Linked DNA regions of Homo sapiens: region 2 is linked to region 1. The links come from fine-mapping of genetic effects on gene expression. Tissue or cell type: whole blood. Region 1 holds a variant in brackets; the other region holds the start of a gene. All regions are shown on one strand. Distances are between the middles of the regions. Region 1 overlaps CHURC1-FNTB (CHURC1-FNTB readthrough). Region 2 holds the start of CHURC1 (churchill domain containing 1).

The links. PIP is the estimated chance that this variant, and not a neighbour inherited with it, causes the effect.
Region 2: CHURC1 starts here. The variant in region 1 is fine-mapped to the expression of CHURC1 in whole blood (INTERVAL, PIP above 0.99).

Annotation. Positions count from the first base shown.
Region 1 is chr14:64,931,185-64,939,522 of GRCh38, reverse strand. All of the region lies in intron 3 of CHURC1-FNTB (CHURC1-FNTB readthrough), which reads right to left. CHURC1 (churchill domain containing 1) reads right to left here. Exons shown (of 4, transcript NM_001386928.1): 4 at 4,155-7,385. The coding sequence ends at 7,293. GPX2 (glutathione peroxidase 2) reads left to right here. Exons shown (of 2, transcript NM_002083.4): 2 at 1-365. The coding sequence ends at 35. Among named protein-coding and RNA genes, the nearest start is that of GPX2, 7.4 kb to the left of the region's middle. The variant T/C (reference allele first, on the strand shown) is at 4,080.
Region 2 is chr14:64,909,938-64,918,275 of GRCh38, reverse strand. It overlaps CHURC1 (churchill domain containing 1), which reads right to left and starts at 3,821. Exons shown (of 4, transcript NM_001386928.1): 1 at 3,742-3,821. The coding sequence starts at 3,780. It overlaps CHURC1-FNTB (CHURC1-FNTB readthrough), which reads right to left and starts at 3,915. Exons shown (of 14, transcript NM_001202559.1): 1 at 3,742-3,915. The coding sequence starts at 3,861. RefSeq lists enhancers at 3,552-3,821, 3,972-4,021.

The sequences.
Region 1 (8,338 bases):
CTGACATCAAGCGCCTCCTTAAAGTTGCCATATAGATGTGAACTGCTCAACACACAGATCTCCTACTCCATCCAGTCCTGAGGAGCCTTAGGATGCAGCATGCCTTCAGGAGACACTGCTGGACCTCAGCATTCCCTTGATATCAGTCCCCTTCACTGCAGAGCCTTGCCTTTCCCCTCTGCCTGTTTCCTTTTCCTCTCCCAACCCTCTGGTTGGTGATTCAACTTGGGCTCCAAGACTTGGGTAAGCTCTGGGCCTTCACAGAATGATGGCACCTTCCTAAACCCTCATGGGTGGTGTCTGAGAGGCGTGAAGGGCCTGGAGCCACTCTGCTAGAAGAGACCAATAAAGGGCAGGTGTGGAAACGGCCAGCCTGTGTGTGTGTTCTTTGACAGAGGGCGGAGGGAAGCTACAAACTGCAGGTGGGATAGAGGAGCTGCTAGCACACAAAGCTTTGGGAGGGGAGGATCTGACGGATCAAGGGATGCCCTAATTACTGACAGGAAAGCAAGCGCTGGCCAAGGTCTGCAGTGGCAGGTGCAGTTACGGGAAATGTGAATTATATTATTCCTTTACAGCTCTTCTTCAGAACTGGGGAAAAAGAGAAAGTGATAATGGGAGGTAGAGGAGGAAAAGACAATGAGCCCTTTGGTTGGGGATATTGGGAGGCTGTTAGGAGGATTACAGTCAGGAAGCATCAATAGCACTGTGGGTACTGGGCCAACTAGATCTGACTTGTGCCTTGGGAAATTCCTGGGCAGTCAGCTTAGTTAATGTTTACCAATAGCAAGGGCATAGAGGGTGTAGTTACTGAGAACACAAACAGCACTTTATCTTTTTCCTGATCATCAAACATCTCGGGTGTTTGATCCTTTGCTAGACTGATTCTCCCTCCTTTTTAAAGTTCATGGCCCGGGTGTGGTGGCTCACACCTATAATCCCAGCACTTTGAGAGGCCGAGACAGGCGGATCACTTGAGGTCAGGAGTTCGAGACCAGCCTGGCCAACATGATGAAACTCTGTCTGTACTAAAAATACAAAAAATTAGCCAGGTGTGGTGGCGCACGCCTGTAATCCCAGCTACTCAGGAGGCTGAGGTGAGAGACTCATTTGAACCCGGGAGGTGGAGGCTGCAGTGAGCCAAGATGGCGGCGCCACTACACTCCAGCCTGGGCGACAGAGTGAGACTCCGTCTCAAAATAAATAAATAAAGTTCACATTACACCCTCATTCTTCTCAAAATCACATATTCACAAATTCAGGCTCCAGACAAATAGAGGCAGGAATGACTGGACTCATTTCTTCCTCTGTAAGAAGGAAGGGGTTGGGGATGGGAGAGAGCCTCCCTTCAGAGTCAGGCTGTTTATAATCTGCCATTTGCAACATCATTATTCCTCACTGTGAGGACAGTTTTGCTCAGAGGCCTTGCAAGGATGGTGTCCCCAATTCCTCATCCAGTGCAGACATAATCAAAACATATCACCACCGCCAAGGTCAGGTTCTATCATGTTCTGGAAAAGATACCTGCTGAGAGGCCACTGCCTGTCACCTTGCCCCACAGACCTCATCCTGGAAACTTCTCATTTCATCTTCCCTTCTTTGACCACTAGATGGAATATTTTCACTTCTATTCACTGAAACCCTGAAGGGACAGTTTTCCAAACTGGACACACTGCTTGAGAAGCCCAATGCTGAAGGGAAAATGTTTTTCCTTTAATTGTTCTGCTTACCCTAACCATTTTCTAAGCACTTGCATCATATGAGAGTGAATGTGGAATAGATGTTTAGGATCCCCACTTTCTGACCTTCAACTAAACCTGTCAACAACAGTGCTTTATTTCAAAAGGGTAACCTGAGTATTACAGTGGGAATCCCCTGACACCTTTCTGCAGGGCCTTCTGCTAACTTAAGGCTACCCTTACCTTCACTCTTGAAACCTCAAGCCTTTCAGATTCCTGCTCTTAAAGTCAACAGCTGGGGTATGAATTATTATGGGGCAGGACCATGTACTGATTTTAGAGCAGTAACTGCAGACAAATTGCTTTCCTGACAAAATAGAGAATTCTTCTTGGATGCTAGTCATCACCTTGACAGTACCATAGCCTGTTGTTACATCCAGTAACAGAGCCAGCTATCTCGGGTGTTGGAAACATGCCACAGGCAACTTAGAGCCTGAGACACCAGTACAATGTGTTCAGTCTTTCCCTTGAGGCCCAAGTTCAAAGAATTATTTAGGGATTCCCAAAGGAATGGGAATTACAGTATAAGTTATTCTGCAGAAAGTCAAGAGAAGGCCATAAAGCTAGAATGAAGGCTCTTCACTTGGGAGGGGAAACACTATTTGCTTCAGACAGAACCTGATCTATTCAGCTCAGGAGGAAACAGGGAAGGCAAGACTGGAAGATTCTATTTTAAAAGGATGTTTAGGTTTACCAAATATTTAGTTGTGCTGTTGTTAAAATGAAGAGAAATTAGAAAGTGTTTCCTTTCCTTTATTCTTCATCTTGTTTGTCCCCCTTATCATCCTCAGAAGTATTAGCTTGTGATCATAAACAGACAAGGCAAAGCTTTAAAATATCACCCACTTTTCTAGATAAACAAAAATCTTTTAATCAGATTTCCCTAGGGGCACCCAGAAGGAGGGGGAAGTCTCCTTAACAACTCTCCCAGAAGTGCTGAGATAATGCTATTCAACTCAGAGGAGGGACAGAGAGAATCACTAACCTGAGGGCTCTTACAAAAACAAAAAACAAAACAAAAAAACCAGAGCTTGGAACAAGTGATTTTAGGAGGCCAGGGTAAAGACACTGAAATCGATAATTATCTTCATGACTATGTTCCCATAGCTATCTCTCCTTAGTTTATGAGACACTGAGGCCCAGTATGGTGGCTCAAGCCTATAATCCCAACACTTTGGGAAGTTGAGGCGGGAAGATGGCCTGAGCCCAGGAGCTCACTATGTAGCCTGGGCTACACAGTGAGACCTCGTCTCTACAAAAAATTAAAAAAAAAAAAAAAAAATCGGCTGAGCATGGTGATGTACACCTGTAATGGTTTCAGCTACTCAGGCAGCTAGGGTGGGAGAATTGCTTGCGCCTGGGAGTTCGAGGCTGCAGTGAGCTATGATTGCACCACTGCACTCCAGCCTGGATGAGACCTTGTCTCAAAAACACTGAGTCAAACTCTAGAACTTTATTATAATCACCATCACAACCATCATCCAAACTACCATTCATTTAATATTTACTATGGGCACAGACTGGGCTAGGTACTTTATATACACTAGGTTATTTAACCCTCATAGAGATCCCATGAAAAATTGTTATTTCTATTAAAAGAAAAGGTAATTGGGCAAGACACTTGCCAAGGACACACAGCTTAGGAAGCAGCAAAGCTGAAAGTTAAAGCCAGGTCAGTCTGACTCCAAAGCCTCTACTCTTAACCATAACACAACAGTGCTTTCTTCTAGCTCAGATTTTTCTTCATAAAGACCACTGACAGCTGCCTGCACACAGCATTAGATTTAAAAATCATTAGATTTAAAAATTCTGTGGAGGCATGATGGTTTCTAGTTTTCCACTGAAGACACTGAGGTACAGACAGGATAAGTGACTTGCTCAGTGTCCCATCATTAGCAGGTGACAAAGCTAATTCTAGACCCAGATCTTTTAATTCCTTTTCTATCCAACTATACTGTATCTTACAACAGTCTTGTACTACAGTAAAAAAAAAACATACATTTTTAAATTGAGCGCCTCAAATAACTAGCCCTGCTCACAACATGAAAGAATGAAACCGAAAGGACTTTTGATACACTGAAATAAAGGACAGTGAACATAAACCTCTTCATGGTAACTTACAAATAACAAGCCATATCTGGTTGTGCCCAAGCTATCTGATGTCAATTAAATTAGTACTGGGAGAACCTAAAACCATGTGAGAAAGAGCTAGATCAAACAAAACAACAAATAGTGGCTGAGCTTTTAACTTCAGGAGCCTAACTAGCCAGACCTGTACATCACAGAATGATTAGAGAAAAAGGAGGTGCCAAGATAAGCCCACGTTTCCAATTATCCCCA[T/C]GTTTCCAATTATCCCCACAGGTGATTTCTCTTCCTTCTTATATCTCAGGAAGGAAAGTAAAAAGAAGAGCCATGTTTTGCCTAATTCCTTTTTTTTTATTTTATTATTATTATACTTTAAGTTTTAGGGTACATGTGCACGATGTGCAGGTTAGTTACATACGTATACATGTGCCATGCTGGTGTGCTGCACCCACTAACTCGTCATTTAGCATCAGGTATATCTCCTAATGCTATCCCTCACCCCTCCCCTCACCCCACAACAGTCCCTAGAGTGTGATGTTCCCCTTCCTGTCTCCATGTGTTCTCATTGTTCAATTCCTATCTATGAGTGAGAACATGTGGTGTTTGGTTTTTTGTCCTTGCGATAGTTTACTGAGAATGAAGATTTCCAATTTCATCCATGTCCCTAATTCCTAATTTGAACAGAAAAATAAGGATTCTGTGAAACTGGGTTCAAGTGGTCGTTATTAGATCCACATAAGAATCTAGAAAATGATAAAATATCACAAAACACAGCACAATGTGGGTTCACCAATAATGAAATATAGAGAGAGGATCTTATGTTTTAAATTTTTGTAACATATAGTCCAAAACAAATAGATAATTATACATTCTGCAATAGATGAGGACATTGGCAGGGCATATAAAATTAGACTCTTGGGCTTCAAATGACTAAGTTGGAAGCATTAGCAAACTCAAGGAAGGGACAATTCAGAGGCTATAATGGGCTTAATGCTGCTATTTAAAGTAATGAAGCATTTTCTCTGCTTTCTGGATTCATTTCACCAAACGATTTCCTCAGCAGGTCAGATATAGATTTGCAGCAAAATGAAAAACATTTTCCAGGAATAAAACAACTGATCCCTGCAACAGCTGACTTAACTTTTCTGAATAATAAATCTTCATCTGACATGCCCAGATGCCTCAGAGTACTGTCACTGATATTCTTAACCTCTTCCTAACCTTGCCAGATCCTTGTATTTCATATTTGCCAAACATAATTACTGAGAGGGGGTAACTGCACTAGCTGTGTGATCTTAAACAAGTTATTTAACTTCTTTTTTTGTTGTTGTTTTGTTTTGTTTTTGTTTTTGAGATGGAGTCTTGCTCTGTCTCCCAGGCTGGAGTGCAGTGGCATGACCTTGGCTCATCACAACCTCCCTGTCGCGGGTTCAAGCGATTCTCCTGTTCAGCCTCCCATGTTGCTGGGACTGCAGGTGCATACCACCACCCCTGGCTAATTTTTGTTTTTGTATTTTTAGTAAAGACGAGGTTGCACCATGTTGGCCCGGCTGGTCTCAAACTCCTGACCTCAGGTGATCCGCCTGCTTTGGCCTCCCAAAGTGCTGGGATTACAGGGGTGAGCCACCGCACCCGGCAAGTTATTTAACTTCTTTGTGCCTGAGTTTTTTTGGCTCTAAAAGTGCTACACTGAAATAAAGAATAGTGAATATAAACCTTTTCATGATAACTTACAAATAACAAGCCATATCTGGTTATGGCTAAACTATCAATAGCACCTACCTTATGAATTTGTTAATGAGGATTAAATAAGTGCTTAAAAAGCTCTTAGCATGTAGTAAGTACTTAATAAAGCTCAGATATTATCATCATTACTGTTATTCAACAAAGCTTTTCCCTAGTATCTACAATGAACACTTTGCTCATTTCTTGTTCTTATAAGACCTTAGTTCAGAATTTCCAAATCTCCTAGATATGAAGAAACACTTTTGTTTCTAATGCCTGACCCTTTAAATTTAGGTCTCAGAATGAGCACTAATTGAAGCCACCTCATTGTTTCTAGTACTTTACATGCTTTCTAAAGTATCTTACATTCACTAATTCATTTAAATCTCCTAACAATACTGTGATGAATGTATTATATCAATTTTTGTTAGTCCAATTTGATAGAAACAGGACAATAAAGTCCAGAGTAATGCTTTGCTTAATGACTATACTGCTACTAAATGGCAGAGAGGCCTAAATGCCAGTTTATAACCTCCTGGCCAGTGCTCATGAAACTATGCAAAGTAAGATATTCTAAAATCCCTTTAAAGCCAATGAAACCATTTTCTCATTTATATTAACTGAAGTCCACACTGTATTCAGATTTCCCTAGTTTCTACCAAATGACCTTTTTTTCTTTTCGTGGTATATAATTCCATGTAGGATACCACATTACATCTAGCAGTCATGTCTTCTCAGGCTCCTCTTGGCTGTGACCATGTCTCAGATTTTCCTTGTTTTTTATGGCCTTGATAGTTTTGAGAAGTACTGGTTAGGTATTTTAAAGAATGCTTCTCAATTGGAATTTGTGTGATGTTTTTCTCCTGATCAGACTTGGGTTCTGAGTTCTGGGGAGGAGGACCACAGAGGTAAAGTGCCATTCTTATCACATTCTGTATGATGTGATGCTATCAAGGATACATGCTATCAAAAGGGCTTATCATGGATGATGTTAACCTCAATCACCTGGCTGAGCTGGTGTCTGTCAGATTTCTCCACTGTAAAGTTACTCTTTTCCCCCCTTTCCATATTATACTCTGCAAGGAAGTCACTATGCAGAGCCCACTAAGTGGGGAGTATCTACATAAATTATTTGAAATTCTTCTGCACAAGAGATTTGTTCCCATTCAATCATTTATATTAGTTTGGGCTTGTAAATATTTATTATATAGTTTGGGTTATAACCCAATACTACTTTATTTTGTTACTCAAATTGCTCCAGCTGTGGCCTTTCAGAGATCCTTCAGTTCGATCATGCTGACATACTCCCAATCACTATGATTTTTTTTTTTTAATTTCAGTACTTCATTTTTCTGTGGCACAAGATACTCTAGGCTCATCTTGTACAGTTCATATCCCAGTTCTAGAATCAGTTCATTTTCTAAGGAGTCCTGGTTCCTTTTATTGGAAACCAAAATCTGGGCACCAGGTGTGCTCCCATTCTAGTTGTTTTCTGACCACATAACTGCTAACAAAGATGCTTCACTCTGGCTACACTGATGTGAACTTTGAACTTTAGCAGAAGAGCTCAGCTCTAGAGAACAATGAGCTCCTACATTACCTTTTTTCCTCAAAGAATAAGTAAGTCTAAGCAGAAAAAAAATATGCAAAGAATTTTCAGTATGAATGAAATAAGACAAACCATCAGGCTTGCTGTATTGTAAACCAACACAATATAGTTATAACAGATCTGTAGAAGGATCCTTAGAATAAGAGAGTCATTTGTCGGGGGTCATCAGGGAGAATACTGATAGTATCTTCGGCTTTGCCGCATAACAGACACAGCATGGTATACTCCTAGAACAAGATAAAGTGCATAATTACCTAGAGGAACAGGGAAAAAGATGCTTTATAACTTACTCTAGTTAAGATGTTCTCTACAAATTGTCATGAATATTCTTTCTGTACATTGGATCAATTTCTTCAACATGTATCAGCAATGTCTTAGGCTTATTCTGTATATTCCAGAGCCTGTTGTTTATATAAATTGATACATAAATGTCATCTTGGAAATACATGGCTATTTCTCAGAAAGCACATATATTTAGCTTAGTGCTATTTAAAGTAATGAAGCAATTTGAGTGTGGGTCCCTATGGACAAATTCCTATTCTTACAGCTGTTCCTTTCTAGCATATTTAACACTAATACACAACAGAAACAATTTTTTGAAAGGAGAAAATTCCCAAACTGAAAAAGCTATTTTTATCTACCCTAGGAAAATAAACAATTATGTTAAATTCACTAGTATGTCCTGCCTCATTTTCAGATGGCTAGTTGTCTGGGAATTTGATCCATTTAAGAAGTTTGTTTCCCAGGCTTAATAAATGCCCAGATTGGTAATAGAGGAGATTTTGTTTTAGGCAAAAACCCTTAGGGCAAGGTCCTTTTTCTTTTTTTTTTTAGACACGGTATCACTGTGTTGCCCAGATTGGAGTGCAGTGGTGCAATGATGGTTCACTGCAGCCTTGACCTCCTGTGCTCAAGTGATCATCCCACCTCAGACCCCCAAGTAATTGAGATTACAAGCACTCGGCATCACGCCTGGCTAATTTTTAAATTTTTTGTAGAGATGGGGTCTCACTATGTTGCCCAGGGTGGCCTCAAACTCCTATGCTCAAGTGATCCTCCCACCTTGGCCTCCCAAAGTGACAGGATTACAGGTGTGAGCCACTGCATCCAGCCCAAAGTCCTATTCTTATAGCTTTCCCTTTCTAGAATATTTAACAGTCATAAACTACAGAGACATATT
Region 2 (8,338 bases), 21 kb after region 1:
TTATTTCTAAATCTGCCTTCTAAAATTCCAAAGAAAAGTTTAATTCTTCTTCATGACAGTCTTTTAATTATTTTAGAACAGAATAAAATCAGAGAAAAGTGCCTTTGAAAGGCACTCTCCTGGTTTTCCAATCACCTCGATCCCTTTTTCTACTATTCTTCCTTATACTTTATTTTCATTTCTGAAGTTAATTTAGTCTTTGGAGCTCAGTCCTTGATTCTCTACATTTTTTTCCTCAGAGAACAAATCCTATTTTGACACTTGTATTTGACTGACTCATCTATCTACATAGTTGTACCCAAACTGCAGTCTTATATCTTCACTTGACCCTTCGGATATTCTCAACCTCAGGTGAAGCATGATATTAATAACAATTTGACCATTTGTCCCCAATTTTGTTTTTTCTTCCCATATGCCTCCAATTTCTGTAATGATACTTCCAACATCCCAGTTGCCTAGATTGAAAATCCTGAGATCATGTGATCATGTATAGGTCTCCCCTTATTCACTTCTACATTAAACAGGTTGAATCTTGTTAATTCTTTTTTTTTTCAACAGGGTCTCGCTCTGTTGCCCAGGCTGGAGTGCAATGGCACGATCATGGCTCACTGCAACCTCCCACCTCAACCTCCAAGTAGCTAGGACTACAGGTGCATGCCACCACGCTTGGCTAATATTTGTGGTGGTTTTTTTTTGTTTGTTTATTTGTTTTGAGACGGAGTTTTGCTCTTGTCACCCATGGTGGAGAGCAGTGGTGTGATCTCGGCTCACTGCAACCTCTGCCTCCCAGGTTCAAGCGATTCTACCGCCTCAGCCTCCCAAGTAGCTGGGATTACAGGCGCCTCCCACCACACCCAGCTAATTTTTGTATTTTTAGTAGAGACGGGGTTTCGCCATGTTGGCCAAGCTGGTCTCGAACTCCTGACCTCAGGTGATCTGCCAGCCTTGGCCTCCCAAAGTGCTGGGATTATAGGCGTGAGCCACCGTGCCCAGACTATTTGTATTTTTTGTAGAGACAGGGTTTTGCCATGTTTGAGACTGGTCTCAAACTCCTGGGCTCAAGTGATCCACCTGCCTTGGCCTCCCAAAGTGCTGGGATTACAGGTGTGAGAACCGTGCCCAACCTAATTCTTTCTTTGAAATAAGGTCTTCATTATCTCATGCCTACACCACTGTTGCCATGGCTCCTCAAATGCCCTGTGGAGTTCTGTCTTTACACACCCTCTACCCCACCATTTCAACATTCAGCCATAAGATTCATTTTCCTAAATAACAGATTTCAGAATCATTTCTCTATTAAAATTTTGATGGTGGCCCAATGCCTAAAATGTAAACTCTAAACTTCTCAATATGACTTTTAAGTTTTACAATAACTCCACTCTTAAGAATCCAACCTAAGGCCCGGCGCGGTGGCTCACGCCTGTAATCCTAGCACTTTGGGAGGCCGAGGCAGGTGGATCACGAGGTCAGGAGATCGAGACCATCCTGGCTAACAAGGCGAAACCCTGTCTCTACTAAAAATACAAAAAAATTAGCTGGGCATGGTGGTGGGCACCTGCAGTCCGAGCTACTCGGGAGGCTGAGGCAGGAGAATGGCATGAACCAGTGAGGCGGAGCTTGCAGTGAGCCGAGATCATGCCACTGCACTCCAACCTGGGCGACAGAGCAAGACTCCATCTCAAAAACAAAAACAACAACAAAAAAGAATCCAACCTAATCTCTTTAATATTCTCTACTGCAAACTCCTCCCTCATGGTCTCATAATAGCTCATGTTTATTACTGGTTTCATAAAAATCTTTTTAAACTTTAAAAAAATGAAATAGTACATAGTAAAGTACATGAAACATAAATGTAGCGAACAAGAAATGATTATAAAGTGTACATCTGTAGAACCACCACCCAAATCAAGAAATAAAACACTGCTTGCACCCGGGAAGACTTTTTCTCATGTGACCCTTCTTGATCACACCCTAATCCCTTAGGAGTAACCACTATCTCGACTTAACAGTAATTGTATACGTTCCTTACAGTTTTACCACCCAGGTACATCCTTGAATAATATATTTTGGTTTGCCTCTTTTTGAATTATACTTTATGTGTTCTTTCATCAACACTATTTGTAAGACTTTTCAGGCTGCTGTGTAATTCTAGTTTGGTTTCACGGCTATAATTCAGGGTTTCTCTACCTCCACACTATTGACATTGGGAGTGATACTTTGTTGTGGTGGCTGTCCCATGTATTGCTGGATGTTTAGCGGCATCCCTTGCATCACCCATTAGCAGTCAGTAGTACTTCCCCTTTTGACACCCAAAAAATGTCTCTGGATATTGCCAAATGTCTCCTAAGAGCCAAAAATCACTCCTGGTAGAGAACTACTGCTCTAATTCATTCACTTCCATTCCTCATTCATTAATGGTGTTCCATTCTAATGAATGTATCAGTTACTTTTCCAATCTACTACAAAAATAATGCTGTTATGAACACTTATTTATAAAAGTCTTCAGAAGCATATACACATGCATTTTTCTAGAATGGGAATCACTGGGTCATGTCTGTATTTTATAAGGCTCACCCGCTTTTTCAAAGTAGTTGTACTACAGGAGAATTCATACTGTTATACATGCTACTCAAAAGCCTAAGTATTACCCATAAGATACTAAGACATAAGGAACTACAGAGACTTTCTCCCTCCTTCCCAACCAATGCACAAATTCCATTTCTGTAATTTTCCCCCATCCTCCAGCTCCTCACCTTCTTTTCTACCCTAATTACAACTGTCCTTCAAGTCTTAGATGATGTCCACCTTTTCTCAGGGGAGAACAGCACTATCCCCTATTGCCCTCCCCTTTCCCTAAACTTGAATAGCATTTCTGAACTGAGCTACTCATTTTTTGTTAGTCACATACTCCCCAAAACTGTAAGCTGTTAGGCAGCACCAAAGGTGCCTTTTAATTTCTTCTCTGAAACAAATAATCCAGCTGGACGTGGTGGCTCATGCCAGTAATCCCAGCACTTTCGGAGGCCAAGGCGGGAGGATCACTTGATCCCAGGAATTTGAGACCAGCCTGGGCAACAGCAGCACCCTGTCTCAAAGAGAGGAGAAATAATCCCTTTCTGGCCTAGCAAAGTAATCTAACTACACATATATAAATGTTCAACAAGGATGCCTTGAATGAATGAGAATAGACAAGCTTTGCAAACTCCTGAACCTGAAAGTAACTGAGATTCAGAAGGCGGTAACAGGCAGGAAACCTAAATTCTAGTCCTGGCTCTCATCCATGCAACTAGAATGTGAACTTGGGCAAGTGATTTCCCCTCTCTGGGCATCGGTTTCTTCATCTGCAAAAGTGTTAGAACAGATGACCACAGAGGTCCCCTCCAGCGCTAGAATTCGGTAAGAAAATTGTACTTCATCAAATCGAGCTTGAGGATGAGACCGGAAGTGGGGGTGGGGGAGTCCCTCGGTTGTCGACGGGGGTTGTGGTGGTGGTGGGGTTCCTCTGTTGCTCCTTGGAGCTCAAGAGAACGGCCACTACAACTGAGGTCAGCCGCCAGGGCGGGTACCAGAGGTGCAGACCGCCACAGGCCATCCCTGGTGTGCCTAAATACCGCTACTGGGTCACCGGGACCGGCAGTGCGGCCGAGTCCGCCCCACGTACGGCCTCTCTGGGAAGGCCAGCCTTGGATATGAGACACCTCGGGGGCCGCCCGCGGGCCAAGGGAGCGCCCAGTCGCTCACCCGGTTGGGATATTCCTTCTCCACACAGTCGCCACACATCGCGACGCAGTCAACAGGGAATGTCCTCCAACGCTTCCGGGAAGACGAAACCTCGCGAGAACTGAGATACGGTTGCCGCATGCGCCCAAGTACTCGACTCCTGGGTATTCCGTCTCGGGAACCGAGCCGAAGTCTCCGCCCCTTAGCAACTGTTGTCAAGGCAGGGCACAGTCTCCTTGGCACCGTGCGTGGGCAAAGGGTGGGGCTTCAGAAACCTTTGGAGACAGACGAAGAAATCTTGTGCGCTAACAGATGTGACGGGAAGGGAAAGGGATCTTGGGCTGAGCGAAGTTCTCACAGACACCTTCCTGAGCTTAGGCTGACAAGAAAGGCAAATCACGACACACAAGAAAGGGAATTATTTCTCGCTACCGCATATACAAATCTGAAATGTTAATGAATACATTTCTGTACCATTTCTTAAGGCAATGAGAGTGAATAAGAGACCAGATCTCAGCAGGTGAATAAACAGTAACCGAAGTGTTTGGGAAGAGACACTCAGAGTGCTGCAGAAAATCTCCTAAAAAAACACTTAAAATATTAGTAATAATTGGTCATTCCAGAGTCCTCTGGAGGACATAGCAACGAGGAACGTATTTCTATCTCTCTCAGGTGTCACAGAAGCACCTCAGTGGCGGGCAAGCACTATGTAAATAGAAAAATGGCCAGGTCATCAGCCATCCCATTACTGGGTATATACCCAAAGGATTATAAATCATGCTGCTATAAAGACACATGCACATGTATGTTTATTGTGGCACTATTCAGAATACCAAAGACTTGGAACCAATGCAAATGTCCATCAATGATAGACTGGATTAAGAAAATGTGGCACATATATACCATGGAATACTATGCAGCCATAAAAAAGGATGAGTTCATGTCCTTTGTAGGGACACGGATGAAGCTGGAAACCGTCATTCTGAGCAAACTATCGCAAGGACAGAAAACCAAACACCGCATGTTCTCACTCATAGGTGGGAATTGAACAATGAGAACACTTGGACACAGGGTGGGGAACACCACACACCGGGGCCTGTCGTGGGGTGGGGGGAGGGGGGAGGGATAGCATTAGGAGATATACTTAATGTAAATGACGAGTTAATGTGTGCAGCACACCAACATGGCATATCTATACATAGGTAACAAATCTGCACGTTGTGCACATGTACCCTAGAACTTAAAGTATATTAAAAATAAATAGATTTCAAAAATTATCTAATTGAATTGACTGCAGATATTTTGATTTCAGATTTGCACATCCATTTATAAATGACCTATTGGTTCACAGATTAAAAAACCAATAAACATATGTGCTTCCAAGAAAAGAAAGAAAGAAAGAAAAATGGCCAGGTCAGTTGTTCCTGCATCATTTCCCAATCCTGTGGGTCTCAAAATGCTTGTGCTTGTTGCCCCGCCTCATCCTTTCTCTCTGTATTGAAAGCATCTTATTTATTCGCAACGACCTAATTAACTTGCAGACGAATCTCCGAAGTTTGTCTCTGTTTCTGAACAATGCGTCTTTATCACACTCCTCTACCCCAATGGGAACATCAACATCCTCCCTCAGCCCTGCTTTATTGCTGTCATGTCAGGGAAGAAAGATTGGGGAGCCTGGGAGACTCTGGGATCCAGATTCCTTAAAGAAGAGATTAATAACCATTTCAAAGCACACCAGTTTAAATGGGTTTGCTAATATGGGAATTATTTTTCCACGGAAGCACTGAAGTTGTAACCTTTAGTATTTCAACTTCTAGTAAGTATCTGCAACTGTTATTAAAAATCATAGGTGTGCTAAGAAACACTGCAAGAACTAGAGCCATCAGAGTTTACCTTATTCTTAGAATAATTATAATACCTCCCATTTGTATGACATTTTCAACCTTTCAAAAGTGTCCTCATTTCAGTTTCTAATTTTATGCTATTACAATCCTATGTGGTTGGTAAGAAAAATATGTCTCCTCTTTTCAGATAAGGAAACCACAGAAGTGAGTGGTTAAAGGTCTTGTCTATGGTAACAAAGCTACTCAGTAGTCAGCCAGGGCTAGGACTCTGTTGCTATCCTTATCTCAATTTCTTTCTAATACAGTAGCACTAGCCACTTATGGCTATAAAGCACTTTAAATATGGCAAGTTGAACTGAGATTGTGCTGTGAGTACATTCTGCACACCAGATTTGGAAGATTTAGTATTAAAATATATAAGAATCTCATTAATAAATTTATATGATTACGTTGAAATAATTTTTGACGTACTGGGTTAAATAAAAATGTATTATTAAATTAATTTCACCTGCTTTTTTAATGTGACTACTAGAAAATTAAAAATTACACATGTAGCTCTCATATTCCTATTGGACAGGGCTAGTCTTTTTTTCTTCTCTCTCTCTCTTTTAAGGCAGTCTCACTGTGTCACCTCGGCTGGAGTGCACTGGCATAGTCTCGGCTCACTGCAACCTCTGCCTCCCAGGTTCAAGCGATTCTCATGCCTCAGCCTCCCAAGTAGCTGGGACTACCGGGGCACACCACCACAACCGGCTAATTTTTTGTAGTTTTAGTAGAGATGAGGTTTCACCATGTTGGCCAGGGTGGTCTCGAACTCCTGGTCTCAAGTGATCCACCTGCCTCGGCCTTCCAAAGTGCTGGGATTACAGGTGTGAGCCACTGCACCTGGCCCAATTCTTTCTCTTCATCCATTTTTAAATGGTTTCTCTGTTTTTAAAGCCTAATACTGACTTTTAATCCTTTGCTACTCCCCAGCTACAATTTAGTCTGAGAGATAAAATGAGCACAAATACTAATAATTACTGGCAGATTGGGGTATAAGAACACAAAATGATGAGACTACACCCAGGGGGAGGATTAGGAAAGAGGAATTTGGGCCTTAAAGCATGTTTAGAATTTCAAAAAGCAGAGTTTTGTTTTGTTTTGTATAGAAATTTCAGGTGAACCATGCCAAGGAGTTTGGATTTTATTCTGCATGTGGTAGGGAGCAACTGAAGGTTTGAGCAGGAGAGTGTTGCCAGAGTTGTGGTTTAAAATTATTTTAGGCTGGGTGTGGTGGCTCACACCTGTAATCCCAGCACTTTTGGGACGCCAAGGCAGGAGGGTAGCTTGAAGCCAGGAGTTCAAGACCAGCTTGGGCAACATAGTGATGACCTCAAAAAATTTTTAAATTAGCCTAGTGTGGTGGTGTGCACCTGCAGTCCTAGCTACTCAGGAGGCTGAGATGGGAAGATCTCTTGAGCCTAGGAGTTTGAGGCTGTAATGAGCTATGATCATGCTGCTTGCACCCCCGCCTGGGCAACAGAGTGAGACTCTGTCCCTAAAAAATAAATAAATAAAAAAGATTATTTTAGCTGCATTTTATTGGGACTTACTGGAACTGGGAAAAAAATGGACATGCCAAAGGCAGACGTTAGCAGGAACCACAAGGGGGAGATGTATAGCTTTCTGCCTCATCACTGAGAATATACACAACAAAAATAAATTAATTAAAAATTACACTAAAGTCATAGATCTTAAAGAGTACACCCATTAGCATGAATTGATTTCATATTCTAAGGCATGAAAGACAATCTACATATTTATGAAATTTTTTTACCTTCCCAGAGTTATATCATAACTTGTTATTAAAATGAGCAAGATAAAAAAAAAAAAAGGTCGGCCGGGTATGGTGGCTCATGCTTGTAATCCCAGCACTTTGGGAGGCTGAGGCGGGTGGATCATGATGTCAGGAGATCGAGACCCTCCTGGCTAACATGGTGAAACCCTGTCTCCACTAAAAATACAAAAATTAGCTGGGCATGGTGGCGCATGCCTGTAATCCCAGCTACTCAGGAGGCTGAGGCAGGAGCAACGCTTGAACCTGGGAGTCAGAGGTTGCAGTGAGCCGAGATCGTGCCATTGCACTCCAGCCTGGGCGACAGAGCTAGACTCCATCTCAAAAAAAAAAAAAAAAAGTTGTCATATTTATGGTCACAAAAGCTCAAGAGCTCAGGGCTATCTATCCAATGAAGTCCTCCATTTAAATCTAGCCACATTCAGAGAAGAGAGGCAGGAAATGAGACTTGGGGGAAGAGGTAGCCAGGACCAGAAATTAAAGTGTGACTGTGGTAATGGGAATATAAAAGTATCTGAGGTTGACAGATGGGAGAAAGGAAAATAGAGGCTACAAAGCAGAAGATTAGCACCTGAATGAAATGAACAAGTAGTGATGTAACATAAGAAAAACAATAAACAGAAAAATATTTTCTCTTATAGGTAACTATATAAAATAAAATTTGCAAAATCAATTTTATCTTCTAATAGAATTTTCTCTGGGGAAATACCCTGCCCCTATGGGTCTCTAATAAATATGTGATGTCCATGAGATATATCAAACAAACCATGTTGCAGTTTACGTATGAGATCACCTCTTGTAAAAGGAATTGATTAAAGAAAATCTAAATGTTAAAATGGCCCTAATTGCTGGCTCAGTTACATGTGCTAAACTACATCCCTGTGGTAAGATGAAAATTTTCCCTAAAGAGTGCAGTTTGACTCTCCTTTTAACACCT